4 linked regions of the Homo sapiens genome follow. The protein of the gene in region 1 purifies or fractionates together with the protein of each later gene. This does not show direct contact. Each region holds a gene or a part of one and is shown on either strand. Other genes may lie near its edges.

What was found.
Region 2: the proteins of SSRP1 (region 1) and TRIM33 purify together in Homo sapiens (affinity purification with mass spectrometry; 3 studies listed by BioGRID and IntAct, with this or other methods). This does not show direct contact.
Region 3: the proteins of SSRP1 (region 1) and MMS22L purify together in Homo sapiens (affinity purification with mass spectrometry; 4 studies listed by BioGRID and IntAct, with this or other methods). This does not show direct contact.
Region 4: the proteins of SSRP1 (region 1) and TONSL purify together in Homo sapiens (affinity purification with mass spectrometry; 6 studies listed by BioGRID and IntAct, with this or other methods). This does not show direct contact.

What each region holds. Positions count from the first base shown.
Region 1 is NC_000011.10:57,325,675-57,333,493, forward strand, and holds the end of SSRP1 (FACT complex subunit SSRP1), read right to left. Parts: coding exon 7,761-7,819; intron 7,476-7,760; coding exon 7,285-7,475; intron 7,182-7,284; coding exon 6,951-7,181; intron 6,813-6,950; coding exon 6,709-6,812; intron 6,607-6,708; coding exon 6,478-6,606; intron 6,216-6,477; coding exon 5,994-6,215; intron 5,254-5,993; coding exon 5,181-5,253; intron 5,068-5,180; coding exon of another isoform or gene 4,936-5,067; exon of another isoform or gene 4,756-4,935; coding exon 4,617-4,755; intron 4,465-4,616; coding exon 4,419-4,464; intron 3,288-4,418; exon of another isoform or gene 3,185-3,287; intron 2,753-3,184; coding exon 2,623-2,752; intron 2,209-2,622; coding exon 2,038-2,208; intron 1,841-2,037; coding exon 1,752-1,840; intron 1,216-1,751; coding exon 1,029-1,215; intron 805-1,028; coding exon 733-804; 3' UTR 314-732; downstream 1-313. UniProt on the Homo sapiens protein: Component of the FACT complex, a general chromatin factor that acts to reorganize nucleosomes. The FACT complex is involved in multiple processes that require DNA as a template such as mRNA elongation, DNA replication and DNA repair.
Region 2 is NC_000001.11:114,423,679-114,431,497, reverse strand, and holds part of TRIM33 (E3 ubiquitin-protein ligase TRIM33), read left to right. Parts: intron 1-585; coding exon 586-700; intron 701-3,603; coding exon 3,604-3,750; intron 3,751-4,203; coding exon 4,204-4,321; intron 4,322-5,774; coding exon 5,775-6,049; intron 6,050-6,742; coding exon 6,743-6,907; coding exon of another isoform or gene 6,908-6,927; intron 6,928-7,819. UniProt on the Homo sapiens protein: Acts as an E3 ubiquitin-protein ligase. Promotes SMAD4 ubiquitination, nuclear exclusion and degradation via the ubiquitin proteasome pathway. According to PubMed:16751102, does not promote a decrease in the level of endogenous SMAD4.
Region 3 is NC_000006.12:97,272,653-97,280,471, reverse strand, and holds part of MMS22L (protein MMS22-like), read left to right. Parts: intron 1-1,573; coding exon 1,574-1,623; intron 1,624-7,409; coding exon 7,410-7,497; intron 7,498-7,590; coding exon 7,591-7,768; intron 7,769-7,819. UniProt on the Homo sapiens protein: Component of the MMS22L-TONSL complex, a complex that promotes homologous recombination-mediated repair of double-strand breaks (DSBs) at stalled or collapsed replication forks.
Region 4 is NC_000008.11:144,434,165-144,441,983, forward strand, and holds part of TONSL (tonsoku-like protein), read right to left. Parts: intron 6,948-7,819; coding exon 6,802-6,947; intron 6,743-6,801; coding exon of another isoform or gene 6,707-6,742; coding exon 6,554-6,706; intron 6,313-6,553; coding exon 6,187-6,312; intron 6,047-6,186; coding exon 5,857-6,046; intron 5,730-5,856; exon of another isoform or gene 5,312-5,729; intron 4,619-5,311; exon of another isoform or gene 4,572-4,618; coding exon 4,489-4,571; intron 4,397-4,488; coding exon 4,307-4,396; intron 4,170-4,306; exon of another isoform or gene 4,064-4,169; intron 3,583-4,063; exon of another isoform or gene 3,535-3,582; intron 2,936-3,534; coding exon 2,863-2,935; intron 2,832-2,862; exon of another isoform or gene 2,757-2,831; coding exon 2,593-2,756; exon of another isoform or gene 2,587-2,592; intron 2,518-2,586; coding exon 2,394-2,517; intron 2,255-2,393; coding exon 1,494-2,254; coding exon of another isoform or gene 1,490-1,493; intron 1,456-1,489; exon of another isoform or gene 1,387-1,455; coding exon 1,310-1,386; intron 1,277-1,309; exon of another isoform or gene 1,007-1,276; coding exon 853-1,006; intron 726-852; coding exon 647-725; intron 116-646; and 1 more. UniProt on the Homo sapiens protein: Component of the MMS22L-TONSL complex, a complex that promotes homologous recombination-mediated repair of double-strand breaks (DSBs) at stalled or collapsed replication forks.

The sequences.
Region 1 (7,819 bases):
CTTGGAAGACCCTTGACTCATAGGTAAGGATGCAGCCAAGAGCTGCCTCCCCCTAGCTTGGTTGGCTAATGGAGTGTAACTGGGAGAAACTTCCTAATCAGATCAGCTCTCATTTCTAGACTCTCAGGTGGCCCATCCGGGCAGAGGCGGGTGAAAACCAATGCTCGTCCAGCCGGGAACAGAACAGGATGTACCTCGAGACTTGCTTCCCGGCTGGCCAGGAAGGCCCTGCCCAGTCTGACCAGAGCAGTAAACACCACCAATAAAAGTGGGAGCAACACACCAAGGCTACAAAGAAAGCATGAGGACATGGTTTCCAAAGTCAGTTCCCTTTATTAAATCATTTTCACAGACCAGAAATACAAAATGAAAGTAGAAATAGGCCCCAGGTAGGAGCTACAGGCCTGGCCTCACATGACCCCTGCTCCAGCAACTTGAACAGGACAAGCAGCAGCTACATCCTTAAGGTCGGGAAAGTAAGATGAGGATTTGGATCCTGCATTGCCCTGCCTCCCACCCTATCTCTCCCCAAATTATAAACAGCCATCCTTGGGAAGCAGCAGAGTTAAGACGTCTCCCCACTGCCCTAGTGACATACACACCAACAGGAGAGCATGTTCAGATGGCACAGAATCCAGGGACTGCATTTCATGAGGAGAAACTGGTACCAAAATATGGGTGGGGAGTCGGGGGGTGTGAGAAGGCAAGCGCAAAGAGAACCTTCCTCCGTTTCTACTCATCGGATCCTGACGCTGAGTCCTCTGAGCTGGGGGGAGTACTGGCTAGTTCTTCTTCTTCAGAGTCCTGAAAACCAAAGGTGTCTTAAGGGAAAAGCTGGAGTCCTGGGTGCCCCACCCACTCTTCAGTGAAGGGCCCGCAATTCCCTACCGCCCCCAACTACAGCACCCCCCTTCAGAACCTCAGAATTCCACCATCCACTCCAACTCATTACTCTTACAGACCAACCCCACACAGACACACATGCCCCTCACCCTGCCCAGCCCACAGGCCCCACATTCCTGCCGCACCTCGCTCCTCCTCCTCTTCTTTTTGCTCTTGTTCTCTCCCGAAGAGCTCTCATCACTAGACACAAACTCTTTGCTCTTGAAGCTCTCGCTTAGCTGCCTTGAGGACGACTTGGATGATGAGCCCCTAGAGGGCGTGGATTTCTTTTCCATCTTTACCTTTACTTTCTTCTTCTTCTTTGACTTGTCCCTGTATTGGCAAGAGGGAAGAGGAGCTGGGCCTTCAGGTCCCCTGTCACCATGACCAAACCTCTCCCAGCTTTAACAAGGCCTTTCCCAATCCCAGCCACACAGCCCATTTCACTCTGAACGTAAATAGCTGCGTCAGCCTGGAGGGCACCAAGGGAGAGTATCATGAGTACACCAGAAGAATCAGAGGGCACAGCCTAAAGCAGCCCAATGTGCAAAACCTACTTGATATTTCTTGCTTTATCTTTTAGAGTTCATGCAAACTGTGCACTGCACTCCATAATAGTATTTTTTTCGTTCCCCCATACCTTCAAATAAAATGGTCCAGGAAAAGAGGCCATATTTCCCCAGTGACTTGAATGCCCTATTGTGTCACCCATACTTGGGCAATGGCCTACCCAGGTTTGAGAAGCACTACCCTACTGCAGTCAGAAGCATCTCTGCTGTCTTTAACTTTCCAATGCTCAACTTCGGCCTGTTAAAAAAAAAAAAGTCTGCCACAAAAATCAGTGACTGGGCCATGTTCTCGACACTCACCTCTTAGAAGACTCGCCTCGGCCCCCTTCATATTCTTTCATGGCTTTTTCATAGTCCCTCCTGGCATCCTCAGCCTTGCGATCCCACTCCTGTCTCACACACAGAAAAAAACAGTTAAGAATAAGACCTCTCCCATCTCCCCTCTCCCCTGATGCAGGCAAAATCGATACAGAAAGTCCCACCAATGGCTCATACTGCTCCCCTATCAGTCATGAGACTCGCCACCCCAAGACAGCACCTCTCGCCAGCCCATGAGAGGCATCACCCCTCCTCTGCTGCTACTCACCTCTTTCTTCTCTTTGGACATTCCCTTCCAGATCTCGCCTGCCTTCTTGGAAAGATCCGTGATGCTGATGCCAGGATGGTCTGACTTGATCTTCTCTCGGCTGGCATTGAGCCACAGCATGTATGCAGACATGGGCCTCTTGGGGGCATTGGGGTCTTTGCCCTTCTTCACCTACATAAGAACCCAAATGCCTTCAGCTATTTCCCACAGAACCCATACATTTTCCCAAATAAATTATTTAGATCACTTAACTTGGAGAAAAAGTGGAGGACTAAATAGCATCAGGCGAGACGAGAGCTCCCTAAGGGCAAGGATAGTATCTCCTTCCCCTCTGCAATTCAGTGCCTAGCTTACCAGGACAGAAGCCCATCTCCTAATTCAGACCTTCCAGAAGCTTATTAATCTCAGGGCTAGTGAGAAAAATTTCCAAGAAGATAACCCTCAAGGCTATAATCACTGGCTATAAAAAACAGCCCCAAGGAAGAACAGGTCCTACTGGTGGTGGACAGGAGAAGGTAAAGAGAATGCCTCCCACGCCCCCCACCCACTGCACCACACACAGGCCCTCCCATCTACAGTCTGCACCTCCACAGGCTTCTTGCGGCTCTTGCGGTCCTTGGCCATCTTGGCCTTTTTGAGCTGTTTCCGCTTCTTCTCATCCCGGTCACTGTCACCCTCATTACTGGAGGAGCTGGCAGAGGCGTTGCTGTCAAACCTGCCAGAGAACAAGCCAGGCTTAGACTTGAGGAGGGAAGACAGGACCCCACGGCCTCAGGACAGGAGGAAGACAAATCCAAAGATACCCACCCAAAAGGGGCAAGGGAGGAAGACCAGAGGACAGTATCCACCACCAATCCCCAACACTGCTTTCTCCCATTCACTGTGGTGGCTTCAGCCATGCCCTCTCCAGACCCAGCCACAGCAATTGGTTACTTGATTGGAATTAATGAATGAAAAACAAATCAATGAGCTTCAGCGGATCTCCCTGGGCATGGCCAAACCAGGTCCTAGTCCATCCCCAGGACACCACTGGCAGAAACACTGCCTCATTCATGCCTGGAACATGGCCCAAATCCACTTCACCACTTCCCTCGGAGTAATCACCTTAATCTACCCTATAGTCTTTTTTGTCTTCTTTTTTTTTCCATGTCAGATGGGTAATGTGTCAACATCGTAACAAGGCTGGAGGGTGGCACATTTCACACACGCACGTAACACCCAACCATTATGTTTATGAACTACAAAAGGATTGGCCCCTACAGTCTTCTGATGAAAAGATAATCAGTTACTACAAAAAGAGGAAAACCAACTTCAGTCCAACCCAGTGCCTACCCCTGTAATTGACAGTCTTGTCTGATATATGTGAAACTCCTCAAACAATGCAACTACCTTACACCTGTATGCTGCTGGACAGTCTTCAAGGCACTTTCACAAGTATTTGCTCATTAAACCTTCATAAACCTTCATAAGCATGTGGCAGGCTGAACTAGAGGACTCCTGTTGGGTGTTTTTTTTGCTGCCCGACATTCTTTTACAATCCTTCTGGATTAAGAGAGCAGAGTCCCAATTTTCTGTTGGGAACCACCTTGCCCCCACTCAGGAAGGGCTTACCCCAACCACAGGCTCTAAGGGTGGGCACTTGGCCTATTTCTGGCCCATCAGACCCCAGCCCATTCTAATAACTCAGGCTAGAAAGGGGCAGGTAACCACTGTGTTCACTATGCTGTTCACCAAAAGAGGCACTTCTGGTGTTGTTTTAAACCAGTAGGATTAAGCCTGCCCTGAGCTTCTGAGAGTCACTGGGCACCCCATGGGGTAAACCTATTTTTAATTAAGGAAATCGGAAGAAATAGATTTGAGCGCCTGAATCCAGTAGTGTCTGAAGCCAATTAAATCCCCAGACTCCGCAGTAATATGAACTTATGAAATTCCCTTTTATATGTTCCCTTTTAAAGTGAGAGTGAATCACATTTCTGACACTGCTAACAAAAAGTCTTAACCAATTTAGCAGGGGTACTACTGCATTTCTACTGATGAGGAAATTGAGATTCAATGACTTACTCGACAACCCCCAGCAAGTAAGTGGCAAGCACCAGCTCATTCCCATTCTCTCCTCATCCAACTACGAACCAGCCCCAACTGGCACATTCAGGGCGGTATGGCCATAGATCCCACTATACTTTTCCGACTTCAAAATATGTCTTGCACTTACAAAGCCCTTGACAATTTCCAAAACATTTTCGTATATCACCTCATTGGAGGTCACTCTCCCATTCTGGGTCAGTAGCTAATGCTGGGACCTGAGAAATGTCCAGAAATCTTCTGGTCCCTTAAGCTTATGGGTCACCATCTTATCCCCACAAGGTACCACCAAAACTCACTCCTCTGCCACATCTTCCTCCTCTTCACCTGGGTTGAATGACTCATCTGAAAAAGGGCACAGGATGCATCAGCTTCTGCCCCAATGGAAATCCCCCCACCTCACCCAGGCACCCAGCTCTGGCCCAAGGGTGAGTCCAGCCCGGGCCACAGCGAGGAGCGTCTGACCATCCTCGTGCTCAGCACGGAGGCTAACCCACCGGTTTCTTCTCCTGAGTCATCGCTGCTGTCATTGGCATTCTCCTCCCGGATCTTGCCTTCCTCCTTCATCCTCTCCAAGTAGGCATCATGCTGGTCCTCATCAGAGTCAGCATATTCATCGTAGCTTGGGTTCATGCCCTAGCCAGGGAAGAGTTCACGGTGGGGCCAACTCACCCTCGAGCCAGAATCCCTGCACACTCAAAAGCACACCCCCATGCCTGTCAAGTCAGAGCAGCAGCTCCCAGAAGACCTGGGGCTGGATTGTCCACACACAGCCAACGTGCAGGGCCTATGCCCAAGTACTTCCTGCCAACTGGGTTAGTCCAAGCCCCAAGCCCCTCCCTCTCCCAGCCCCACTGGGGGCTCCTGAGGGGCTGCATAGACTGGTCTAAGGTCATGCAGAGGAAACCTGCACCAGGAGGGGGAAAGGGTCACACGCACCTCTTTTTTCTATAAGGGTAAGAAGAGAAGAAAGAGTGAAAAAGAAGCCGGAAAAAATCTCCACCCCTTTCTCCCCTATAGAAAGACCAGGAGAGGGTCTCATCCTCCCCACACAGAAGTACCTCTTTCAATCCTCGGTTTTTGATGTTGAGCTTTTTCGCGTTGACAAAATCAAACAGTTTCCCGTACTCCTCCCTGTGAGGGGACATGCACCATGTTACCAGAGAGGTAGTGCCAACACAGGGGCACACTAAACAATGTTCTGATTCCATGAGCTGGGGTAGACTGTGGAGCCTGGAGCTCTTGACTATGCTACCCAACCCAACAGCTTAGAAACCCCCAGAGGACAGCAGTAAGGCAGAGCCAGAGCCAGACATTAGTCCTGAAAGAACTGCATGGCTTTGAAGAACTCTGGGAAAGGAAAGGCAGGGAGGGGTGCGCATCTGTTTACAAAATAAGCTCAGAGGGGAGTAAGTGTGGGGCAGGGGACGTGGTCATCTTTTTTCATACTTCACAAGGTTGATATGAGGATTACACGTGAAGATGCTTATAAAACGTTTAGTCCACAGTGAGCACTCAATAAGCATTAGCCGCTATGTTCTCAGGCACAAAGCTCATTCCAGGAAAGAAAGAGATAGCATTTCCATCATGGTGGGGAGTGGAGGAGAAAAAAGACCAGTAGCGAAGACATATAGCTTTCAGAATACGGAAAAAGTTTTTTTTGTTTTGTTTTGTTTTGTTTTTTTAATGACCAGAAAGAAAGCAATGGAGAGGTTTCTAAAGTCTGAGCACTCCAGGGAAAAGGACCAAATCCTGATGTAGCAAAAGAAAAATTCTGCTCTAGGGTTGGAGAGTGCCCCAGGCCACGCCAGCCTTCCTAGACAAAGCTGGCTCGGGACCAGGATGCCCAGGAAGTGACAGGTGGAGGTTCTCACCTCTCAATGCTGCTGAAGGTATACTGAGTGCCCTGCTTGGTCTCAATTTCAAAGTCAAAGGAACGAGTAGTAGTGGTACCACGAGCAAAGTTGACAAAGGAGATCTCATCGAAGCGGATGTGCACAGGTGGCTTGTGGACGTAGATGAAGCCCCGCTCCAGCGGGTAGAGCAGTCCTGAGCTTGCCTTGTAGGAACAGGTAATGCACTGGGCCCCTGAGTGCCTGACAGAGGGTGCAGGGAGCCTGGTTAGTGCCAACCTCAGCAGAGGCAAAGGGCGTATCTAGCAGCAGCGACACGAGTGCTCATGTCCTCGACTAAGTAAACCTCACTGAGCTGTTCTGACAGAGGCGCTGGCACCTATTGTGACACAAGGTCCCATCCAGGCCTCTAGGAGGCCGCATTCCCATCTCAGGAAGGGTTTACCAAGGAGACACGGCATTTCCCATACCCAGGCAGGGCAGGATCCCAGGCCCACACTCTCACCCTTGGAAGTTGCCTGGCACTGTGATCTTGCGGTTTACCAGTGCTTTCATGACCCGGCTGACCATCTCATAGAGGGATCCTGACATGTTCTTGGTGAGCCGACCCTCAAAGCGCTTCTCCACTTCTTCCCTACAAAGAAAGCAAGGTGAGGTCACAACACTACTGCCTTCTAATGGCACACCTGTCTCCTGCCTGGACAGTGGTAGGAAACGAGTCCAGGGAGACACTCACTCGTTCATGTTCAGAGTCAACGAAATGTCCTCGTCCTTGGAGAAGAGGAGGATCAGGAAGTGGTAGCGAGTTTGGCCTTGCTTGATTGGGGGATCCAGGCTGATCTAGTAAGGAAGAGTACTAATTGACACTCTACAACAACTTGCAATTAACCAACGTAGAATTCTGCACACCAGTGAGATCCATCTACTTAACACTTAGGCAAAAACCAGGATTATCCGGCCATAGGGGTTTCTGCTTACCACAAAGAACATCTGGCGCTGGTCCTTGTGGGGTAACAAAAACAGACGCAGTACTGTGGTGTAGGGGATCTTGTAGTCAAAGGTCTTGCCATGCAGGTGCAGAAAGGTGGGGTAGATCCGAATGTCATAACGACCACGAGGAGTCAGACACTGCAGCTCCCGGAAGATGCAGATGGCATCTCCCGTGGCCTGGATTACATCCGCCTTTGACAACACATTCTGGGCAAAGGCCTGCAAAAGCACATATTGGTAGCCAAGCAGCAGGCCCTGCTCCCAGGCCAGCCAATGCCTGCTCAGCACCATCTGCTGCCAAGGCAACCAGGGGAAGCCTCACCTCAACAGGGTCCACACCATCCTCCTGGGTGGGTGGGACGTAGAAGCGCACCTCCATGAGAGACACCTCTGCGTCATCGTTTTGGTGGAATTCCAGTGTCACCTCATTCTTGCCTGTGGTGCACTGGGACACATTGCTGAGGGGTATCTCAAAGACTGGCTGGTCACCAATGTCAAAGGAAAGCAGCTGCCCTGTGAGGAAAGGGCTTATCCAGCCACAAGCTCCTCCCCTTAAGTCTGCATAAGCAATATTCCCACCAAACTGAGTTCCACAGAGACAGGATACTGCGGTTAGTCTGTTTAGACTATAACCCCAACCCCAGGCAGTATACTGTAGGTACTCAATAAACACATGATGAACATGCAAATAGATAGGAAACCAGAGACAGTGGCAGAGGGAAAAGAGCAAAACAAGTAAAAGGCTGAAACCCTTCACCCTATCTTCCTCCCCAAACCTCAGTCTTCCCCAGGACTCACCACCAAATTTCACTGTCCCCCAGTTCCAGCCCTTCACACAAAGGTCCTTCTCCATTAGC
Region 2 (7,819 bases), on another chromosome or scaffold:
CTACTTATAAAACATCTAAAGCTATTCTTAAAAATGGATTGAAAATGTTTTATGCCCTTTACTGTATACAAAGGGAAACCATATTAAGAGTAATTTTGAAGGGAGTGTATCAGAACCCATGTTTGAAGTGGCTAAGTTATAAATGAAAATAAATGCTTCTATGTTTAACTATTATCCTTTCAAAAGATAATTATTGCTTGTGACATTGTCCTTTTGCACATTGTTCTTGGAAAACGTCAAGGTTAAACAGAACCAATGTGCCACATTTGACACTATCCAGAAGTCACTGGTGTTTGTGCATCACATTCATGTCATAGTTACTTAAGTAGATTGCCATCCAGCTTAATAAACTGTCCTTTATGAGCATAATTTAAAATTACTAAATATTAGTTTCATTATTTGTCTATGTACATAACTTGTTTGGACCAAATTGGTCAGGTCTGCTGAAACATGAGTTGTACATTTTGACAAAGTTTTCATTTTAATTACTCGGTTAAGTGCCCAGTTGGATGAATTTCTGTAACAGTTGATGATTCAGAGACCTAGGATAAGTTGATAACCTAATGATGCATTTCTCTTATTCAGGATAAAAGAAGTAAATGAGACTAACAAACGAGTAGAACAGGAAATTAAAGTGGCCATTTTCACCCTTATCAATGAAATTAATAAGAAAGGAAAATCTCTCTTACAACAGCTAGAGGTATGGTTCAAAGCCAAAATAAAACAAAAACTGCTTCTCTTGCTCTTTAGCTGTTTTTAATGTTTATTGAAAACTATTTTAGATGGATTGGGGGGTATGGAAATAAAGGAAAACGTAAAATAAGGTTTTTAAAATTTACTTTTGGAAGAGACCTTTTCTAGTTAGTTACTTTGCGGCCCAATTTAATAACACTGACTTTAGCTGTATACCTTAGGAAATAGTGATGTCCTCTTAGAAATCAAATAATTGTTACTAAGACTGGGTATGGTGACTCACACCTGTAATCCCAACACTTTGGGAGCCCAAGGCAGACAGATCGCTTGAGCCCCGGGATCCAGCCCAGCCCAGGCAACATGGCGAAACCTGCCTCTACAAAAAATACAAAAATTAGCCAGGGTGGTGGCATGCACCAGTAGTCACAGCTACTCAGGAAACTGAGGTGGGAGGATCGACTGAGCCCGGGAGGTCAAGGCTGCAATGAGCTGTGATTGTGTCCTGCACTCCAGCCTGGGCAACAGAGTGAGACCCTGTCTCCAAAATGAAAAACAGAAAAAGAAAAAAGAAATGTTACTAAAATGTGATGTACGTAAAGGCAAAGTAGTCCCACCACATTTCTTCCCCACCCCCTTAAGATGGGGCCTCAATTTAATTTTACCATATAGATTCATGTTGGGCTTCTGCTTGAGTCATTTGTGTATTTTACCTTATTTTAAAAATATTTCCATAGTTTTGCAGAAAATGCTGCTCTTTTTGAAATTTATAAACCTTAAACTTAGTGAAAATTTTGTGATATTAGGTATTTATATTGCATATTTTGAAGTTTATTTGTAGGTGTAAGTTTCTAGATGAAAATCTAGTCAGTTCATGAAATCTAAATTTTTAATCAAAGTCTCCACTGCCGATTTGATTTATTTTTAGCAAATTTCAAATAGGAGTTTTCTGGGAAATTGAAGTTTCAGAAAGAGAAATGTTTCCTGATTGAAAATTTCATGCTCTGGAAAGTTGAAATTTTGGAAAGAGAAATATTTTCTGATTGAAGATTTCATGCTCTTAACTAGGTTCAGATGATATGGGGATTATTTTTTCTGCACCATTGAATAGTAATAATGAAATGATTTATTTGATTATTTCCATTAACCTCAAATTGTCAATAGTTTTTTTTTTTTTCTGTCCCATCTCTTCATAGAATCCTTTAAAAATATTAGGTGAATAATTACATAAAAATGAAATGATGTCAGTAGAATGTTATCTCTGAATGGAATACATCTTTCCAGTGAAACACAATTTGTGAGATTAAAAGTACTCTTGGCCGGGTGCGGTGGCTCACGCCTGTAATCCCAGCACTTTGGGAGGCTGAGGTGGGTGGATCACAAGGTCAGGAGTTCGAGACCAGCTTGGCCAACATGGTGAAACCCCATCTCTACTAAAAAAAAAAAACAAAAATTAGCCAGGCGTGGTGGTGTATGCCTGTAATCCCAGCTACTCAGGAGGCTGAGGCAGGAGAATTGCTTGAACCCGGGAGGTGGAGGTTGCGGTGAGGCAAGATTGCGCCTCCGCACTCCAGCCTGGGCGACAGAGCGAGACTCCGTCTCAAAAAAAAAAAAAAAGTACTCTTGTGCAGATTGTTAAAGTTGTGGGTCCCTTTTCCTACTGTACACCAGTCTGTTGCATTTAACCCTAATAGGTTTTTCCCCCCAAAAGGACCCATGTGAATAGAGAGCACTTAGTAACTATTTTTGATACACTTAAACTTACTGTAATACATTTGAGCTGTACGTCTAAAATAGTATTTGTAAAACCATTTCAAGAGTTTCTGAATTAAAAGATGCTTCTTAAGATCCCTTGAGCCTGGGAAGTGGAGTTTGCAGTGAACCAGGATTGCACCACTGCACTCCAGCCTGGGGGACAGAGTGAGACTCTGTTAAAAAAAAAAAAGCCTCTTAAGGCTAAAGTGTATACAAATACCTAATGGTAAATACGCCACATACTACTAACATGATGATAAATTTAAAATAGATGTTTTCTAGTGTAATATGTTCTTATACTTTGTAGAAGAAACGTTTTTCTAAGCTTTATAAAAGAAATGTAGTAAACCATACTTCTCTCAGTTGAATACTCTTATCCATTGATTTACATTATAAAATGAACAGCTTCTTTCCTTAGGAAAAATATTGTCCAGAAAAACCAACTTGAGTCATTTTTGGGAGAAAGTTCTTAAGAAAGTAGTAGATGAGTTGTTCAGCATGCTGAATGTCAAAAGTATGTAGGACATTACCCATCCCTCCTGGGGTGATTTTAGTTCCCATAAAGCAGTTTATTTTTCCTTTGCAGTGTTTCTCTGAAATTGGTTTTTGCAGTTTGGTCAGTCCTTACTTCTTTGTTCTCTGTGAACTTCTGTGATATCAAAAGTTTCCCTAATTCTACTCTTAGAACTCTGGAAGTTATCTTTTTCATTTTGTCTTATATATTTAAGAGAGATTTTAACTTCATTCTCATGCCATACCAGGAGGTGGCACTGGTGACACAAAATTTTTTTGGCCTTTAAAGTATATTAAGATTACATAAATTTATTTCTAAAGTTAGCTCCTTATGCTATAAATACCATATATTAGATTAATCTAATAGGAAGACACTATTTTTAACAGACATGTTGATAGAAAAGTGACATTAACTAACATTCATTTCTATATGTGGAATATCCTTTTTAGCTTAGAGAACTGACTTTTAGTCCCACTTTTGTTAGTGGCTTTTCCTCTGATGATAGGCTTGCTAAATAATCATGGAGCTTATTCACTTAGCCCATTTTTAAAGGAAGTATAGGTATTGTGCCCATTTGCATTAGAAATGTGGGGTTGATTTTTTTTCATATGGAATTCTACAGCGAAGCTCTTGTTCTGTTTCAGAATGTTACAAAGGAAAGACAGATGAAGTTACTACAGCAGCAGAATGACATCACAGGCCTTTCCCGGCAGGTGAAGCATGTTATGAACTTCACAAATTGGGCAATTGCAAGTGGCAGCAGCACAGCACTACTATACAGCAAGCGACTGGTGAGACACATACTGTTTTTATTTTTCTTTAATGGACTTTATTAAGATATATATTCAGTGAATTGCACCTGTTTAAAGTATACATTTTAATTTTGGCAAATGTAACCACCACCACATCAAGATACAGAAAACTTCCACCACCCCCCAAAGTTTCCTCATTCCACTAGGCAGCCACTAATCTGATTTCTGTCATTTTTTAGAATTTCATATAAGTGGAATTATATAGTATGTACTCTTTTGAAGATACCTAGTATCTTAATGCACTTTATTACCCAAAATGGCAGAAATTCAAGTATGTATATTTGATTTGATTGCTAATTTAAATGTTGATGCTGCCTAATCTGAGGCTGACACTGTGGGAATATATGTGCTTTTTTTTCTTAATGTCTTTATCTTATGATTTCCCAATTGATATTTAATTTTGAGACTAATGTGGATTTTTTTCCCTTTAAGATTACTTTCCAGTTGCGTCATATTTTGAAAGCACGGTGTGATCCTGTCCCTGCTGCTAATGGAGCAATACGTTTCCATTGTGATCCCACCTTCTGGGCAAAGAATGTAGTCAATTTAGGTGAGAAATAATGAGTTTTATGAATATAACTTGGAACACTGAATTAGAAGGAGAAAATACTTAAAGCAAATTTAGATAAAATTTTTAACTTTATAAAACTAATGTTTTACATTTTATGTAAAAATATGTTGTTATTCATTGGAAACTCACTTTAGCTGTGGTTTTGTGTGGCTGTTATTACATCTTAAGAAAGTTGAGCGTCTACTCTGTATATTGTTTTTTAATGTGTGCTGTTTCTAGTCCCCCGACCCTCCATCTTTTAAATTTATATTGACTGTTTCATATAGAAATCTTAGCAAATGATTCATTGTCTGGAATAATTTCATAGATTTTTAGTTGTTTAATTAAGCCAAATTGTGCATTAGCAACAGACTTTTAGGATGCTAATGTGTCCAGTAGTTAGGTCCTGAGGAATGTTTGAAAGATAAGAGTAGCTCTTTTCACATGGAAGAGAAATGGATTTTCCTTTTGTTACAGCGTAGTATGGACCTAAAGACCATAGATGAAAGTTACAGAGAGCTCAGTTAAAACACATGCACACAAACTTCCTAGCAATTAGAGAGCTATTTACAGATTGAGTAAACTCACTTTCAGAACAGTTAAGTCCTAAACAGTGGGAATTGTAAAAGCAGAGGCTGGTTGCCCTTTTTTTTTAAAAAAAAAAAAAAAGTAATCTTTGCATATAATAAAAAAAAATTATATTCAAATTTAGCTATAGCCTTAGTTCTGACATCAGCCAGCTGTTTTTGTGTGACGTAGTAGCTAAGAATGGTTTTTACATTTTCAACTGGTTGTAAAAGCAAACAAAAACCAAGGACTGTGAGACAGATCTTATGTGGCCTGCCAAGCATGAAATATTTACTCTATAGCCCATTACAGGGAAAGCCTGTCAACCTGTGCCTTAAATCACATCTTCCTAAAATTTGGCTTCTATCCCTAGAAGGCAATGGCTCCATAAAAAGCAAGGAAAACCATCACGTCTAAGGATATAAGTTGTTTAAAGCATTCAGTATTTCCACAGAAGACGATTTTGTGACATTGTAATGCTCTGCCTTGCATATTTTGGCAATTCAAAGGCAGATGGAATCAGTATTGGCAATCTTGAGTATCCTTGAGTAAGTCTTGTCATGGGAGAATTGATTTAGATTGATTAGATAGGCCTCTTCTAATAGATAATCTCTTTTACTGTCTTAATTTTCTGTATGTCTAAGTAAAAAAGAATAAGGACAGAGAGTATATTTTTCTGAATAACCAAACGTCATTTATTCAGCTTTGGAATGTATTAAGTTTCTGATCATCATCATCATCTTTAAACTGACTCCATTCCCTGCTGTACTGTTGGAGCTTTGAGGTGCTGATAGTTGTCAGAGGAAAGAGGAAAACATGGTGATTACTCAACAAAGTAGATGATTTAGTTGATTATATGCAAATTCTCATTTTTTAAATTTTTCAGGTAATCTAGTAATAGAGAGTAAACCAGCTCCTGGTTATACTCCTAATGTTGTAGTTGGGCAAGTTCCTCCAGGGACAAACCACATTAGTAAAACCCCTGGACAGATTAACTTAGCACAGCTTCGACTCCAGCACATGCAACAACAAGTATATGCACAGAAACATCAGCAGTTGCAACAGATGAGGATGCAGCAACCACCAGCACCTGTACCAACTACAACAACAACAACACAACAGCATCCTAGACAAGCAGCCCCTCAGATGTTACAACAACAGGTAAGTATCGTGTTACTACATTATTGATAGAAATTATGAAGCCCTCAACACTACACTTTTTCCTATATAATTAAGTTACACATTTCAAAGTTACTAGCAAGACTGAGCAGAGTTCAAAAGTCAGAGTTTAAATATTTGCTATGGTTATGATGGTGATGTAAGGGAGCTGTGAAGAAAGGCAGTAAGTAAATTGTCTTGGGAAACAAAATTAATTCACTAATACTCTGAAAGGATGTAAGTTCTCATCCTTTCACATCAAATCTTTTTTGTTTTCCACGTATAATTTTGTGGACCAAAGGACCAGACTGTTTCTGCCTAGGATCTGATATGTTCCTTAGGCATTTGTTCAGATCTTTCCTATACCTGTGTGTCTTTTGCTCTCTCCACTGCCATCCCAATCAAAACTATTACTCCAGGATGGGATACGTTAATGTTGATACGCTTTAAACACACATATAGAGAAAAAGAGGGGGAACAGGTAAGAGAGAGAGAGAGAGACAAGGGAAATTAGGGAGTGATATACAAACTAGTCATTACCAGTCCTCTGGGGATTGGGGCTAGCGATAAGAATTATTTATACTTTTTACTTTATACCCTTTTATCTTGACTGAATTATTTTTATGATTACATTTTATAATTGAGATAAATTTATTTTAAAATTATTACATAAATTGCAATTTCTACTTTTTGTAGCCTCCTCGATTGATCAGTGTGCAAACAATGCAAAGAGGCAACATGAACTGTGGAGCTTTTCAAGCCCATCAGATGAGACTGGCTCAGAATGCTGCCAGAATACCAGGGATACCCAGGCACAGCGGCCCTCAATATTCCATGATGCAGCCACACCTCCAAAGACAAGTATGCCTAGAGTTACATTTGTAAGAATCCTACAATTTTAAAATTAAAAGACGTCATTTTCTTAATCACTTTTTGGGAGCAGGTCATTGATGTGTTTGAGAATTTGATTAATGCTGTATATCCTCTTGTCCCAGAAAAATAAACATACACATGAGATTTTGTATTTAATTTTAAGAGCTTTTAAAAAATGCTTTAAGTGCATCATATACTGTGGGTTAAGAAACCCTGATGTAGTTAACCCATTCAATTTGCAGAAGTGAAAAAAATCTAATGAGCTGGTGATTTTACCCACAATCACAAAAAGCAATGATAAAATAGCAAGAACATTAGTTTCCTGAAAATGCTGCTCTGCTCTTTTAATGTGGCTTTTTGATCCTAATATATAAAAAGGGCTTTGAGAGTAACAGAGCTAACTATATGTATTATTATTATTATTTTTTTTTACCTTTTCTCTACTCAAATATTCTTCCTTTTAGGATGTAGATACGCTTTAATAAGTGTGTTTAGAGACATGTTTTATAATCTTTGCCTGGTTATGTTTATATGGGAGATATGAGTATACAGTGAGGCCACTTTTTCATAGGATTTCTAGTTATAATAGAGTTTATTTTTTAACTCTTAGAATGATGTTTCTCAAAACATGTTTTAAAGACCATCAGAATCACCAGTCAGCTTTGGTGGAGTGGGCAACCTTGTCAGAATGGATTCCTAGCCATAACCACTGAATCAGAATTTCTAGGTGGGGAGTACTCAGTAATATTTAAATTTGTATTAAGTCTCTCAGGTCAATCTGCGTACTAAAGTTGGAGAAACACTGTCCTAGAACAGTGGTCCTTCAACTTTTTGGTCCATGTACGCCCAGAAAGAGCTTTTTAAAATAATGCGCTTCTTGGCTGGGAGTGGTGGCTCACG
Region 3 (7,819 bases), on another chromosome or scaffold:
AATCCCAGCTACTCAGGAGGCTGAGGCAGGAGAACTGCTTGAACCCAGGAGGCGGAGGTTGCAGTGATTTGAGATTGCCCACTGTACTCCAGCCTGGGTGACAGAGCGAGACTCTGTCTCAAAAAAAAAACTCATCTCAATTAATAAAAATTAAAGTTCTTCATTATCATTTAAGACACAGTTCATATTCAGATTTTAGGTAATTTTAAACAGGAGTCAGTTATTGAAAGCTAATTATTCCAAAACACAGTAAAAATCTATATGTGATACATTTAAAGGAAAATGGAGAGGTGGAAGGAATTCTCTCACCATCATCCCATGAAACCTTTTGAAGAGACTTAAACTGTATCTACGCCATGTCATACGTTTTATTGATAGAACAGGCTCAGTGAGTGATCCTCTGTAATCCTGAAGATTACAGAATGAGCGAGTCTTTATCTAGGACATAGGTTATAAATATGGGTTAATTTTTAAAGACTTTGAAATCAACTAGGAAGAATAGCAAGAAATTGCTATCAGGAATTAAGATGGAACATGATAAATAACAGCTTTCCCTGATACTTTAGTCTACATTATTCCTTTTTTGAACTTCTATTGTATAACTGTATGATACAGTTTAAAATTTTATTATGTAACTGTTAACCTAGAATGTTTTATGTATCTTAAACTTCTTTTTTTTTTTTTTTGAGAGGGTGTCTCACACTGTCACCCTGGCTGGAGTGCAGTGGGGTGATCTTGGCTCACTGCAACTTCCGCCTCCCGAGTTTAAGCGCTTCTTTGCCTCAGCTTCCCGAGTAGCTCGGATTACAGGGTCCCCCCACCACGCCCGGCTAATTTTTGTGTATTTTTAGTAGAGATGGGGTCTCACCATGCTGGCCAGGCTGGTCTTGAATTCCTGACCTCAGGTGTTCCACCTGCCTTGGCCTCCCAAAGTGCTAGGATTACAGGCGGGAGCCACTGCACCCCATCTTAAACTTCTTTTTTTTTTGAGACGAAGTCTTGCTCTGTTGCCCAGGCTGGAGTGCAGTGGTGCGATCTCTGCTTACTGCAAGCTCCAGCTCCTGGGTTCACACCATTCTCCTGCCTCAGCCTCCCGAGTAGCTGGGACTACAGGCGTCCGCCACCATGCCGGGCTAATTTTTTCGTATTTTTAGTAGAGACGGGGTTTCACCATGTTTGCCAGGATGGTCACGATCTCCTGACCTCGTAATCCGCCCGCCTCGGCCTCCCAAAGTGCTGGGATTACAGGCAAGAGCCACCACACCCGGCCGTAAACTTAAAGATATAAACAGTATCTTGCTGATGGTGAAGGCTATGGTATTTGAAATAATTTTTGAGATATATGCAGTCTTTAATAGATAATTTTGGAAGGTCAGGCAAAGATGTATTTTATCTTTTCTTAAAGTTTTCATTACCTGAAGCTGATCCTTTAATTAACATTCACAAGGTATTAATCATCATCCCCAAATTAAAGAGGTATTGAAGCTGTGTAATTTGGAAACATTGTCCACGTAATTGTTACATGCTTTAAAGTGTTCTAAAATTAACTCTCACCTTACATTTTTAAAATTAGGCAACAACTGTACAACTTGGAAACCTTGTTACAGTCCAGTTGTGATTTTGGTAAGTTTAAGGTGTGTTTAATGCAAAAGGGAATGGTGCTTCATTATAGTGAGTTGCACATGGGTCCATGATGGTATAATTGGCATATCATGATAATACAGAGGAAGCATTAGGCCAGAAGTTTACGAATTTAGTGTTCAGAAAAGTATGACTTTTTAAATTTTGTTGTAGCTGAGATATATAGTATTTTCCCAAATCTGTAGATTTTAAAGGTAAAACCGACTTAAGCTAAAATTCTCTGAAGAGAATTAGTACTTGTTTTGGAGGTAGGGAGTGGGATAGAGAACTTAAATGAGAACTAAACAGTGCCAGACCTCATGCTGTCTTCTTGATTTTCTTTTCTGCTTTCTGCTTTTGTGTTTGCTTTTGGTGTGTGATGGATTACTGATTTTTTTTTCTTTTGTTTAGATTGGTATAGTTGGTTTTTTTTTGCTTTTTTTTTTTTTGATAGGGAGTTCTGCTCTTTTGTCCAGGCTGGAGTGCAAAGGTGCCATCTCAGCTCACTGTAACCTCTGCCCCCCGGGTTCAAGTGATTCTCCTGCCTCAGCCTCCCGAGTAGCTGGGATTATAGGCACCTGCCACCACCCCCAGCTAATTTTTATATTTTTAGTAGAGATGGGATTTTGCCATTTTGGCCAGGCTGATCGCAAACTCCTGACCTCAAGTGATCCCCTGCCTTGGCCTCCTGAAGTGCTAGGATTACAGGCATGAGCCACCGCATGTATAGCTAAGGTAATAAAGGGAATTGAAGGGCAGTGTGTTTTAGTGCAGTCTGGCTGCTTCTCCTTTCTAGTAATTTTGGTGCAGTGCAGTGTTTAGAATCATGGCCTTGTCACCCTGGCTTCCAACCCTAGCTAATTGTGGGTCTTACGTCAAGTAATAGTTCTAACTTTGTTGAGCGTGTTAAGTGCTTAACACAGTGTCTACCATTATTGATGCCTAGCAACCAAAGACTACCTGGAACACTTTTGGTCAAACAGAGGTTTATTAGATTATGAAAAAAGGAAAAATACACATTACAAGGAAAAGCTGGGGCTTGTCAGTAAGAGGGAGTAGGAAGGGACTTGTGATATGTTTGGGGCTCATTCTGGTGATTTTCCGTAGGGCTTAAGGGGGATAAGGCTATATTCTGGATTGGATGCTGTTAATTAGCAGGGGCAATTTGAAGAGTGGGTATTTTAATTTTTATCTAGGAGGTGAGACAAACAAAGGGAGCATCCTAATTAGTAAAAAAGTATTGTCCTGGTCACTGGAAGAGGGAGGATGTGTTTTTTTGTTCATTTTGTGTGTGTGTGTGTGTTTTGTTTGGAGTGTGTGTGATTGCATAGTGCCATGTTTTGTATTCAGACATGGTTACAGAGGTTTTGTTTTTGTCTTGTTTCACTGTAATGGAGTGGCCCTGTATCATTATTATTTATTATTATTATTATTTTTTGAGATGGAGTCTCGCTCTGTCACCCAGGCTGGAGTGCAGTGGCATGATTTTGGCCCACTGCAACCTCCAGCCCCCTGGGTTCAAGCAATTCTCCTGCCTCAGCCTCCTGAGTAGCTGGGATTACAGGCGCACACCACCACACCTGGATAATTTTTGTATTTTTGGTGGAGATGGGGTTTCACCATGTTGGTCAGGCTGGTGTCGAACTCCTGACCTTGTGATCCACCCACCTCGGCCTCCCAAAGCGCTGGGATTACAGGCGTGAGCCACCGTGCCTGGACTATTTTTTATGTTTTATGAAAATTGTTTATTTTCAGTAGGGGATACCATGGCCTAGCTGTTAGCTATCAGCTTTTAGGCTGTTTTATATTTTTTGTTTTCTTAATATGTTACGTGATTTGTAAATGTTAAGTATTATTGTTTCATTATCATCTGATGGGTCCCTGGTTCATGCCAGGTACTTTGCAAGGTACTGACGAATCAAAGAGGAAAAATATGCTGCTGATGAGTTTGCAGTTGTGTAGACAGCTAGACATGCAAGCATACATCAGCTTGGTAAATGAAAAGGTACGGTGATAAAGGAATGTACAAGCTGCTGTGGAAGCCAAGGGCTTTGTCTATCTGTGAGCTCCTCACTAAATGATGCCAGATCTGGGTCTTCACAGATGGGAAGAAATTAGCTAGGCAAAAGATTTGGGAAAAGTTTTTCGGACAGGAAGAATTCCAGGCAGAAAAAAATAAAACTGTATAAACAAAGACGTGATGTGTGTAAAAACATAAAAGTTTAGAGAGCATGGATTAAATATTAATTACATATGGTTGGATCAGAATGTGTGTGAGTGATGAATTTGGAAGGGATAAAAGCAGAGTTGGCTTTGTAAACCATGACAGAGAGTATGATTTTTATTTTGGAACTCCTGTGGAGCCACTAAAAGATTATAGTGGAAAGAACCAAAATACCTTTACCTTTACGTAGAATAACTTAAGTAAATTGGGTTCATGGAAGGCATTTATTATGATAGATTATTATTATTACACTTATTAACCTGAAACCACTGCAGTGGACTATTTGTTAAGATGGTTGTTTGTTACACTGACATTTTGGCTGTTTTTGTTGCTTAAAAAAGCTTTTAATGACAGATTTTGGACAAGTTAGTGGTGTTAAATATTATCCATACATGAACATGTCCCTGCCATGTAGCTGTGTTCATTAACTTGTGTAGCTACCCTTGGACCTCAGCTGTGCCAAGAAGTCCCTATGTAGTTACTTACTGCCAGATGAGTATAGTTCTTGTTCTAGCCATTATGCTTCCAGGGTTAATTTCCAGTTGAGGCAGAATAACATACTTAATGACATGTTTTGCTGACAGCTGTTTTTTTTCTCTCTTTCCGTCTCTTTGTCTCTGTCTCAAGACAGGGTCTCACTCCATCGCCCAGGCTGGAGTGCAGTGGTGCGATCATGACTCACTTCAGCCTTGACCTCCTGGGCTCAAGCAGATCCTCCCATCTCAGCTTCCCAAGTAGCTGAGACTACAGGCTCACGCCATCATGCCTGACTAAAATTAATTTTTTGTAGAGATAAGGTCTCACTATGTTGCCAAGACTGGTCTCAAACTTCTGGGCTCAAGTGATCCTCCCGCCTTGGCCTCCTAAAGTGCTAGCATTATAGGTATCACCCACCACACTCAGCCAAGAGCTATTCTTAAATATAATTGTTGGTGTTACCCTGTCTCAGCTATTGTGTGTGTGTTTTTTTTCTCTAGACATTCCTTATGGATTTTTTAAAATGTCTTCTGTTTCTGACTTCATGCTTGTTTTCATCCATCTTGAATATATGGAGTATACATTATAACCACTGTTGTTGCTGCTATTAATAATTCTTCTTTTTGAGAGGGCATCTTGCTCTGTCACCAGGCTGGAGTGCAGTGGCGCCATCTCGGCTTACTGCAACCTCTGACTCCCTGGTTCAAGCAATTTTCCTGCCTCAGCCTCCCGAGTAGCTGGGATTACAGGCACACGCCACCATGCCTAGCTAATTTTTGTATTTTTAGTAGAGACAGGGTTTCATCATGTTGGCCAGGATGATCTTGATCTCCTGACCTCGTGATTCGCCTGCCTCAGCCTCCCAAAGTGCTGGGATTACAGGCGTGAGCCACCATGCCCGGCCAATAATTCTTTTATCACTGTCATTTCTGAAACTATTTGTATTGATTAGTTTTTCTCCTGATTCTGTGATATATTTTTCTGCTTCTTTGAATATATAGTAATGTTTTATTGTTAGATGAACATTGTGGGTTTCACATTGTTGCTTTCTGGATTTTTATTCCTTAAACTAGATGTTGAATTTTGTTATGGGTCGCTATTGTGTAGTTGTAATCCACTGGTTCTTCTTGAGGCTTGTTTTAAATTTTGGTAGGACTTTTAAAAAGCAGCCTTTAATGTTAACTTAGCCTAGTAAATTAGTCTAGTAAGGCTTTGAGAATTCTTTCTCGTGCGTAGTCTATTATGAGATTTTTTTTCATGCTTGCTGGTGAGAACTTGAACTATTCCCTGGCTTGTGTACTCTTTATAGGGAATTGTTTTCTGGTGTTTTTCCCTGGCGTTGGGTAATATTTTTCATGCTTGAACAGATCGATACTTAAATCTCAGAGGGACACTTCTGTACCCTTCCAGAACTCTATTTTGTATAGCTTCTTTCTTCTTGGGTACTTTTGCCCTGCAAATTTGGACTTCCCTAAACTTGGATCCCATATCTCCTCATCTCAAAGAGTGAGTTGGGCTGTATTTGGGTTCTCTTCCTCATATTGAAGCCTGGAAACTGTCTCTAGGTGGGGAGCTGGTACAGTTGTAGGGCTCAGTTTCTCTCTGGGAGAGCAATCTTATATTGTCTTGTGTCCAGAGCCTGAAAACTTGCTTGACGTAATTTTTATGGTTTTCAGCTTTACAGTGGGAGATGGAGCAATCTGATTATTTTACTCCGTCTTGCCTGGATGCAGATGTTCACTGCAGTTATTTTTAAGAGAGTACTGCCTTAATGGGCCGAGAATTGTGAAAATTGGGATGATATGACTTTTTATGGGTGAAATAAAGCCATAAAAATGCAGTTTAATATGGAGGTATTTACACAACTGCTTCACACTTATGCTTCTATTCTGCCACAGTAGTGGCATGATTGTTCATTTGAATTAAACTTTAGTTTCATGTTTAGTATGGCTGTAAATTTGTAGCCTATAATTCTCATCATGTTTTCTTTGCTTTTGTTTACTAGATTGTCTCTTACTCATTCTCTATATAATGATTATTAGTGTTTTGCCCATAGTAACTACCTAGATAATTATTGCTGATATAAATGCTGAAGTAAGTGAGGGAAAGCTGACATGGAGTGAGGTTGGGAGAAAGGCAGCAACTATTAAAAGGTCGTTCAGAGCTTTATAAATTATTATTAGGAGTTTTGATTTTATTCTAAATATAATAGGTATTCTTTCAAGAGTTTTGACTTGGGAACAAGATAAATTGATATACATTTTAAGCAGATTTTTTACTTAGTGTATAGGGGGACAAAAGAGAGCATGGAAAGACCTGTGAAGAGTGCTATTGTGGTGGTTTAAGTGTTTATAGGGAAAATGGATAGTTTCAATGTATATTTGGTTATTAACTTAATAGGACTCTGAAGGATTAGATACGAGGTTAAAGGAAATGCAAGAATCAAGAACCATATAGGCTACTGGTGGCACCATTTTATGAAAGGCTGAAAACAAGGACAGCATCAACAGGTTTTGAAAGAAATCAAAGGAGGTATTATTTGCACTGTCTGAGCAATCCAAGTATAGGTGTTAGGCAGTTTAACACGGAAGGTCTGGAGTGCAAAGGAGAGATGGGGTTGTAGATAACCCTTTTAGAGTCATTATCATTTATTAATAAAGGAACTGATGAGATCATACATATGGGAAGAGATATACAGAGAGTAGAGGATTCAGGACTGAGTCTTGAAGAGACCATATTAATAATAGAATTGAGGAGGAGGAGCCAATAAAAGAGGTAGGACAAAGGATACATGAGGAAGAAAGAAGACTCATTATCTGGCACCATGAAGCCAGGTGTAGCTAGTGCTACTGTGGGAGCAAGTTACTTGAGGGTAGGCACTGTCTATTAGATTGGGCAATGTGGGTGTGATTGGTGACTTTAATAAGAGCATTTTTTGAGGAGTAGCGGGGAGCAAGAACCATAAGAGAATGTTTAATATAAAATGTTACAAGATAGAGAATTGCTGCCGGTATGGCTTACAACATTTTTTGTCACTGCCCATGATAATTATTTGAACTATGATTAACATTGTCTATTTTGGTTTCAGGGAAGGTATCAACTCTACACTGCAAAGCAGACAATATTAGGCAGCAGTGTGTACTATTTCTCCATTATGTTAAAGTTTTCATCTTCAGGTAGGATATCAGATGAGTATTTTGATCACTGCATGAATTTCTGTGTGTATTCACACAGACTCTAGTTGTTTATTTTATCTAATTATTTTTTAGGTATCTGAAAGTACAGAATGCTGAGAGTCATGTTCCTGTCCATCCTTATGAGGCTTTGGAGGCTCAGCTTCCCTCAGTGTTGATTGATGAGCTTCATGGATTACTCTTGTATATTGGACACCTATCTGAACTTCCCAGTGTTAATATAGGAGCATTTGTAAATCAAAACCAGATTAAGGTTTGACTTGTTTCATTTGATTTTTAAATTATCAGCTTTTTCTCCCCACAA
Region 4 (7,819 bases), on another chromosome or scaffold:
TTGAGGGCCCGCAGCAGGGGTGTAAGCTGGGCCTGGTCCAGGGCCAGGGAGCAGGCGCTGAACGAGAGGCCCAAGCCCTGGAGCTCCACGGCCTGCAGCACCTGTTGGTGCTCCCCTGCGGGAGGGATGTGATGTCACCAGGGTAAGGCCGGCCCTTTCTGCCCTCTGAATCCCAGAGGGCAAACCAGGCAGCCCCTTTTCAACAGCCCCAGGGGTCACCCACCAGACTTGCTGTAGAGCCCACTCGCACATGCCTGTGGGTCTAGCACTGTGAGGCCCTGGGGGCCGGGGTGGGTCTGCAGCACCCTGAGCTCCACCAGTCACTGCCAGATTCCACACCCCCCGGGACAAGCTTTCTGGGAAGCTTCCCCAGCAGCTCCCAGCCCATGCCAGGCCCTCCTCCTTGGGTTTGACTTTCCAGGCTTTCGGCTGCTTTTTGCCATCTCCCTGTCAGCAGATCATGGGGGCTGAGGGCTGTCCTCTCCCTTCCACCCACACATCCAAGTGCAGGACACAGCACCCACCAGGCTGGGGGAGGTGCACCCCAAAACACCCGAGGCCCAGGAATGAACCGGGCTGGTGGAGCCTGTGTGCCCAACCCCCTTGTACGACCTCACCCAGAAACTGCAGCTCTCCTGGCCCTCACCTTGCCCCAGGCTCTGGCAGGCCCTGCGGTAGCGGTCAGTCAACGGGGGCAGGTCCCACGAAGTCACCTCAGCCAACACCTGGAAGGCACCGTCATGAGCCACCTGGGGGCTCCCCCGGCTCACCTCATCATTGCTCTGCAGCCATGAGCCACCCGGGGGCTCCCGGTGCCTGAGGCCCTGGCTCCCCCTCCGCTCTGCGGCTCACCTCGTCATTGCTCTGCAGCACATCAGGGATGAGGTCCTGTGGGGCCAGCAGGGCCCCCTCTTTCCGTAGGGTGAGCCTGGGCAGCAGCCCGCAGGTCTGGTAGTAGCGCTGGGCCGCCTGCTCGGCCAGCCAGGCCACAGAGTGGGTGTCACTGCTGCAGGGACAGAGGCGCTGCTGCTGCTGCCTGCACACAGCCGGGGTAATGCCCCAGGGACCCGCCATCCCTGCCCAGGGCCAGAAGCCCCCTCAGCTGCTTCTCCCATTCCCAGGTAGCCGGCCCCTCCTCTCCCTGCAGCCCAGCACACCACCAGCCCCTCTGCTATTCCTGGGGGCCACAGGATCCTCCTGGAACACACCAGGGAGCCCTCGTCACACGCCCCACCCTGACATGCAAACACGAGCACCCTGGCATGGAGCTGCACAGGTGGGCTGCGGGGTAGGGCAGGCGATGCCTCACCTGTGTGGGACAGGGATGAGGAAGAGATGATCCTGAACTTGAACTCGAACCCGGATGGGAGGGGGCGGGGCCGGACCCTGGCAGGTGAAGGCAGCAGGGCTGAGTCAGGAGCCACAGTGGGCTCCACCCTACACCTGCCTGCCCGGAGTGGGGAGAGGGCTCTGCTCCAGGTCTGCATACCCACCAAGGGCTGGCCTGCCGCAGAGCTGTCCCCACTGGGCTCTGAGACCCTGGGGGTGCTGGGGCTCCCTGGAGGTTCTGAAGCCAGGCTGCTGGGCCCTGCGTTAACTGGCGCACTGCAACTCTGCATGCAGGTCAGGCGGACCTGCTTGGCTCGGGCACGGGGCCTGCTCTCCTCACTGTCCGACCCAGAGGTACTACTGGGCCTGCGGTTGTCTCCAGTGCCCCGGGGGCGGGGCCGGCGGCTGCGGGTCAGGGGCATGTCCAGCTCCAGCCAGTCCCCGGCCAGGCACTCCTCCTCCGGGATGAGCGCTGCCTGGGGGGCAAGGGCTTTGCTGTGGCCCCGCGGTGGGCCAGGCCCCAGCCGGCTCTGAGCACTGCCCACACCCCGGATGGCTGCCTGGTAGGCTGCCCGGCTGGTGCTGGCTGTGGCTGCTTCCCTGTTGCTGGCGGGGCCAGGCGTCCAGGCTGCCACCCGTTGTGCTGTGGCCGAGCACCGAGGCCTCTTCTGGGACGGCCGTGCGGGGCCTGCGCTGTCCTCGCCTTCTGAGCTGCTGCTGCTGCTGGCTGGCCCATGCCTGCTCCTCCGAGGCCTGGCCATGGCTGGTGCCGCCTGCCCTGGGGAGACCCTGACATGGGCCTGAGAGGCCTCTGGGAGTCTAGTGCTATTAGAGGGGGGTTCTGGGCAGGGGCTCAAAGGAGGAGAGGTCTCGGGGTCAAACAGAAGGCTGCTTGGGGTGTGGAAGGCCTGGGAGCTGTGGGGATCTGTGGGAGAGAGAATGCGTGTTGAGGCAGGGGCCCGGCACCTCCCGCTCCACCTGTGATGGAGCATCTCCCGAAATCAGGGCCCGGGGACTCTCAGCGTAGGCACAGCAACCCCAGGGACAAGGGACGCCCTGCTTGCCTTGGCCCGAGGCAGCCGCCTGGAGCAGCATCTCCATGGCCCTGGCCTTCTGCCGCGTCTCCAGGTCCAGGTCCCTGCGGTACAGCTTCACCCACTGCTGCAGCGTCTCCAGCGGGCTGAGGCCCTGTGTGGCATCAGTTGAGCAGGGGCACAGCAGCCCCCATAACCTCGCCCTTGCCCTCTGCCCCACCAGGCTCACCTTTCGAGTGCGGAGGGTGACGGACGCCCCCCGTTCAAGCAGCAGCTCAGCCACCTCGAAGTGGCCACAGTTGAGGGCATCGTGGAGGGGGGTGATGCCTTCGCAGCCCTGGCCACCTGGGTCGTCCACTGCGGCCCCGTGGTCCAGCAGGAAGCGGACAATTTCTGCAGACCAGGAGACGTAAGCCCAGCTCCCGATGCCCCGCCAGGACTGACTCTTCGCCCCACGTGTCCACCAAGGTGCGCCAGGCTCCTTCTGTCCCTTGCTCACCTAGATGCCCGTAGTTGCAGGCCTCGTGCAGAGGTGTCCAGCCACAGTAGTCCCGAGGGTTAAGGGGGTGGCCCTGTGACCAAGGACAGGAAGGAGCCTGGCCCTGTGTACCTCACAGCCTGGCCCCAGCCCCGTGAGCTCTGCAGCCTAAGCTGAGCCCAGGGCCTCAGTCTTAGAGCCCAGAGCAAGTCCGTGGCCCTGCCCTCTCCTCCTCCGGCCTAGGTGTCACCAGTGAAGGACATGCTTCCCCCTGAGACAGGTGGACCAGCCACAGCATATCCTCCGCCTCTGTGCCTGCCCGGTCCCCTTGTGGGGAGACAGTGCACCTGGTCGCAGGGGCATGAGGCAGGCGGGGCGGGAAGGTGCCCAGATCTCAGCCCATGGGCTAGCCCCCATCCTGGCCAGGCTGACCAACTTAGCTGTAACACAGATGCATACCACACAGCAGGTACCCCATTTTTTTTTTGAGACCAGCCAGGCTGGTCTCAAGCTCCTGACCTCGTGATCTGCCCACCTTGGCCTCCCAAAGTGCTGGGATTACAGGTATGAACCACCGCGCCCAGCCTGGGCACCCCATTTTTTTGTGTTTTTTTTTGAGACAGAGTCTCGCTCTGTCACCCAGGCTGGAGTGCAGCGGCGCAATCTCATCTCACCGCAACCTCCGCCTCCCAGGTTCAAGCGATTCTCCTGCCTCAGCCTCCCGAGTAGCTGGGACTACAGGTATGTGCCACCATACCCAGCTAATATTTTTGTATTTTTAGTAGAGACAGGGTTTCACCATGTTAGCCAGACTGGTCTCAAACTCCTGACCTCAGGCAATCCGCCCGCCTCAGCCTCCCAAAGTGCTAGGATTATAGACATAAGCCACTGTACCCGGCCTGTGGCTTTTCTTCTGAGACAGGGTCTTGCTCTGTCACACAGGTTGGAGTGCAGTGGCAAGATCATGGCTCACTGCAGCCTCCACCTCCTAGGCTCAAGCAACCCTCCCACCTCAACCTCCAAAGCAGCTGAGACTACAGGCACACGCCATCACATCCACCTAATTTTTAAATTTCTTGGAGACAAGGTCTTGCCAGGGTGCCCAGGCTGGTCTCGAACTCCTGGGCTCATGTGATCTGCCTGCCTTGGCATCCCAAAGTGCTGGGATTACAGGCATAAGCCACCCCGTGCAGCCTCCGCTTTTTAAATTTTTTTGAAACAGGGTCTCACTGTGTTGCCCAGGCTGGAGTGCAGTGGCATGATCGCGACTCCTGCAGCCTCAATCTCCCTCCCAGGATGAAGTGATCCTCCTGCCTCTAGGACCACAGGCAAGTGCCACCATGCTTGCTAAGGGGCCCCATTTTGAAGATGAGGAAGTTGAGAGTTACAGAGATAGGGGATCCGGCACAAACGCACAGCTCCTCCATGCTAGGCAGCCTGTCCCACGTCCCAGAGCGGGGCCCACCTGCCTCACAAGGTCCTGGACGCGGCGCAGCTGGCCCTCGATGCAGGCTCGGTGCAGCAGGGTCTCCCCCATGTCGTTTCGCCGGTTCCACTGTGGGCACAGCCAACCCAGCACAGGGCAGGGGCGTGAGGAGCTGGCAGGGCTGCTGAGCGGGGTGGGTGGGGGCAGGGCACTGTCCTCACCTTGCTCCCCTTCCGCCGGCCCAGGTGGCCCTGAAGCTCCTCGTCCTCCTCCAGCTGCGGGGTCAGGCCATCGGTGTCGTCCTCTGGAACAGAGCCAAGCCCACCCCAGGGGAGTCCGTGGGAGGTGAAGGTTAGCAGCCCCCACCCTGCTGCAAGCTCCCCAAACTCCCAGGTACAAAGGAGCCAGAGACGGGAGGGCTGAGCTCTGAGGCTGCTGGGCTCTGGGGGCTCCTCAGCAATGGTCCCAGCGCTGCCTCCATGTCTCCCTGACCCTGCTGGGACCCTGCTCCTGCCCACCATCCCTCTGCCCACTTGAGACACACCCCTGAGCTTTCTGCCCTAACCCACGCCTGGCCCTCCCACAGAAGGCCTGCCCGAGGCCCCCTCTGTCCATGCGCCAGCCACTCATCCCCACGCCCAGACCGGCTCGTGGGCCAGTCTTCCTCCACCCCACGCCTTATCCACCCCCATCTCCTGAGCTGTGTCGTCAGGCCAGGTCAGCCCTGGAGCCTGGGTATCCTGCACCTTGCAGCCTCCACCCTGCCTAGGCAGCAGACACACCCGCCTCCGTCCCTGCTTCGGGTGACCCCTCATCACCACGCCCTTCACACCCTGCCAGCTGCCTCTGGGTCTTTCCGCAGCTCCTCACTGTGCCCACCAGCTGAGCAGCATTCCCCAAAATTCTAGATCCTGATCCACCTCCCCCCAGCAACCAACCTGGCAAGGCCCCAACTTCCCACAGCTGCCTGGCCACTCAGGGTTCTAACGACGCCCTCGAGTTCAGAGCTGAAGTCACAGCCTTCCCTGGAACACCCCCCAACAGGCCTCATGGACAGGCTCCTGCCACCCACCACTCAGTCAGAAACCAGCCTCCCAGCTACCCGCTAACCCCGCTCTCAGCCCTCTCTCCCTGCACCACGGCCAAGATGGCTTCAGTCCAAGCCCCGCTCCAGCCAGTCCCTCATGCCTGCCCTCCGTGCAGCTGATGTCGCCAGCCTCTGGAGGAAACCCAAGCCTGCTCTGAAGGGTTTCAGGAAGGTGCTCAGCTCTTGCAGAGGCAGCCGGGGCTCTTCAAAGTGCACCGTCTCACCCCTGGCCCCAGATGGCACGTGCCTCTCTAACGGGACCATGCCCCAGCTGACACTCACTCGACTCCCAACCACTGTCTCCTCCAGGAGGCCAAGGCCGCCCCAGGCTCCCTGCGGGTCACCACCTTCTCTGTCCAGTTCCGGGAAAGCACTGGCCGTCCTGCCTGCCTGTGGCTGTTCCTGCTACAGCCCTAAGCAGGCTCCACAGCAGCACAGCACACCCCTCTCCAGCCCGGCCCAGAGCAGGCCCAGGGAAATGCAAGGTGCCGCTGGCCCTCACCGCCCTCTGAGAGCTCCACCTCGCCGGCCTCCAGGGCTTCGCTCTCCGCTGTGGCTGCCGCCTCCTCCGCCTCCTCCTCCTCATCTTCATCTTCAGCTACACTGAGCTCCCGTAGTCTGGTTTCGGTCTCAGGGGCCTCCTGGGGCTGCAGCCTCAGCTGCACGGTATGGAGATGCTGCAAGACCTGCCTCTGAGGAGCAGAGGGATGCTCAGCTCAGGACTGGGGGCTGTGGACGCAGAGAAAGATGGGGATGGGGCACAAGGGGCAGGCAGGCTGCAACGAAGCTGGGCTCACCGGGGAGCCAGTATGGGTGGGATGGGCTCTCGCACCTGCAGCTGGGGACGCTGGGCCTGCTGGGCACAGCTGAGCGCTTTCTGGAAGCACGGGGCCAGCAGCTCGTAGGCATCGCCGGCCTCCTCGCGGGACAGTGCAATGTTCAGCCAGGTCTTGGCCTCCTGGAGCAGGAGGAAGGACAGGGTCGGGGGCTGCCGCTGTCTGCGTCCAACGGGCCCCAGTCAAGCTTCCCCGGCTGCCCAGACGAAATGGGAGCCCGGCCTCCCAGCTGCCGAGGGTGGATGGTCCTAGGAAGGAGCTGCCCGTCCAGTAAGGACACCTGTCCATGGCCACCCTGAGAACGGCAGTCCTGAGGCAGAGACATGGGTGAACCTGCATTCGGGCGGGGAGCAAGGGTTTCACCTCCAGCACGTTGCCGCTGCGCAGCCTCAGTTCCTCCTCATAGTGGCGCACGGCCCCATGGTGGTCCTTCATGTCTCCCAGTGTGGTGGCCAGGGACACGTGGATGATGGCCCGCTCAGCACCCGGTCTGTCCAGCAGCTCAGCAAAACGCAGCTGGGGGCAGTGCCAGTGAGGCCAGGGGCTGCCACCCTGGCCAGGCCTCGTCAACCTCACTGGCCCTTCCCTCCCACCCAGCCGGGGCCACACACCTGCTTCTGGTAAGCCTCAGCTGCCCTGGGAAAGTCTCCTGCCTTGGAGAAGAGGTCCCCTAGCTGCTCACAGATGACCATGGCACCCTGAGGGTCTCTGCCCTCAGCCTCTTCCAGCTGTTGCTGCAGCCGGACCACTGCCAGCACTGCCGGGAAGAGGTTCATGCAGGGGGGCAGCACAGGGGGCCCTGACCCCAGCTCTACCACCTGCAAGCTGTGAGCCCTGTGGTGGCCCCCCCACTCTCTCCACACCTCTGCCTGCCTGTTGGTGTGGGGGTTAATAGCAGGGTCTATCTTGGGGACTGGTCTCAAGGGTCACAAGAACTAACACACTTAAAAACTCGGGGCCAGGTACAGTGGCTCACGCCTGTAATCCTAGGACTTTGGGAGGCCGAGGCGGGCAGATCATGAGGTCAGGAGATCGAGACCATCCTGGCTAACATGGTGAAACCTCGTCTCTACTAAAAATACAAAAAATCAGCCGGGTGTGGTGGCGGGCACCTGTAGTCCCAGCTACTCGGGAGGCTGAGGCAGGAGAATGGCATGAACCCGGGAAGCGAAGCTTGCAGTGAGCCGAGATCATGCCACTGCACTCCAGCCTGGGTGACAGAGCGAGACTCCGTCTCAAGAAAAAAAAACAACACAACATGGATGGTGCCTGGCTCAAAGTAAGGGCTGACGGCTGCCAACCTCCAATGGTGGTCTCTGCCATCAGCACTCCTGGACCACGCGTGCCATCTCCTCTCCCACCCTGGGAGGCTAGGGGTACAACTACTGTCTCCAGTTTGCCAATGAAGATGGTGGCTGCGAAATAAAAGCCCAGCTGGTCTCCTGGCCGCCCTTTCATTGCCCCTGACACACTGTGTTGAGCTCAGAGAAAAAAGGGGGTCTTCTCCTGTCAGGAAGTAGGGGTACCTGCCCCTCTTGCTGAAGCTGCTGCCTCCAAGGACAGGTGCTCAGGCCTCCTCTGTGAGGGAGAGAGCCCTGTACACACCTGGCGGGACTCCACCCCGCCCCC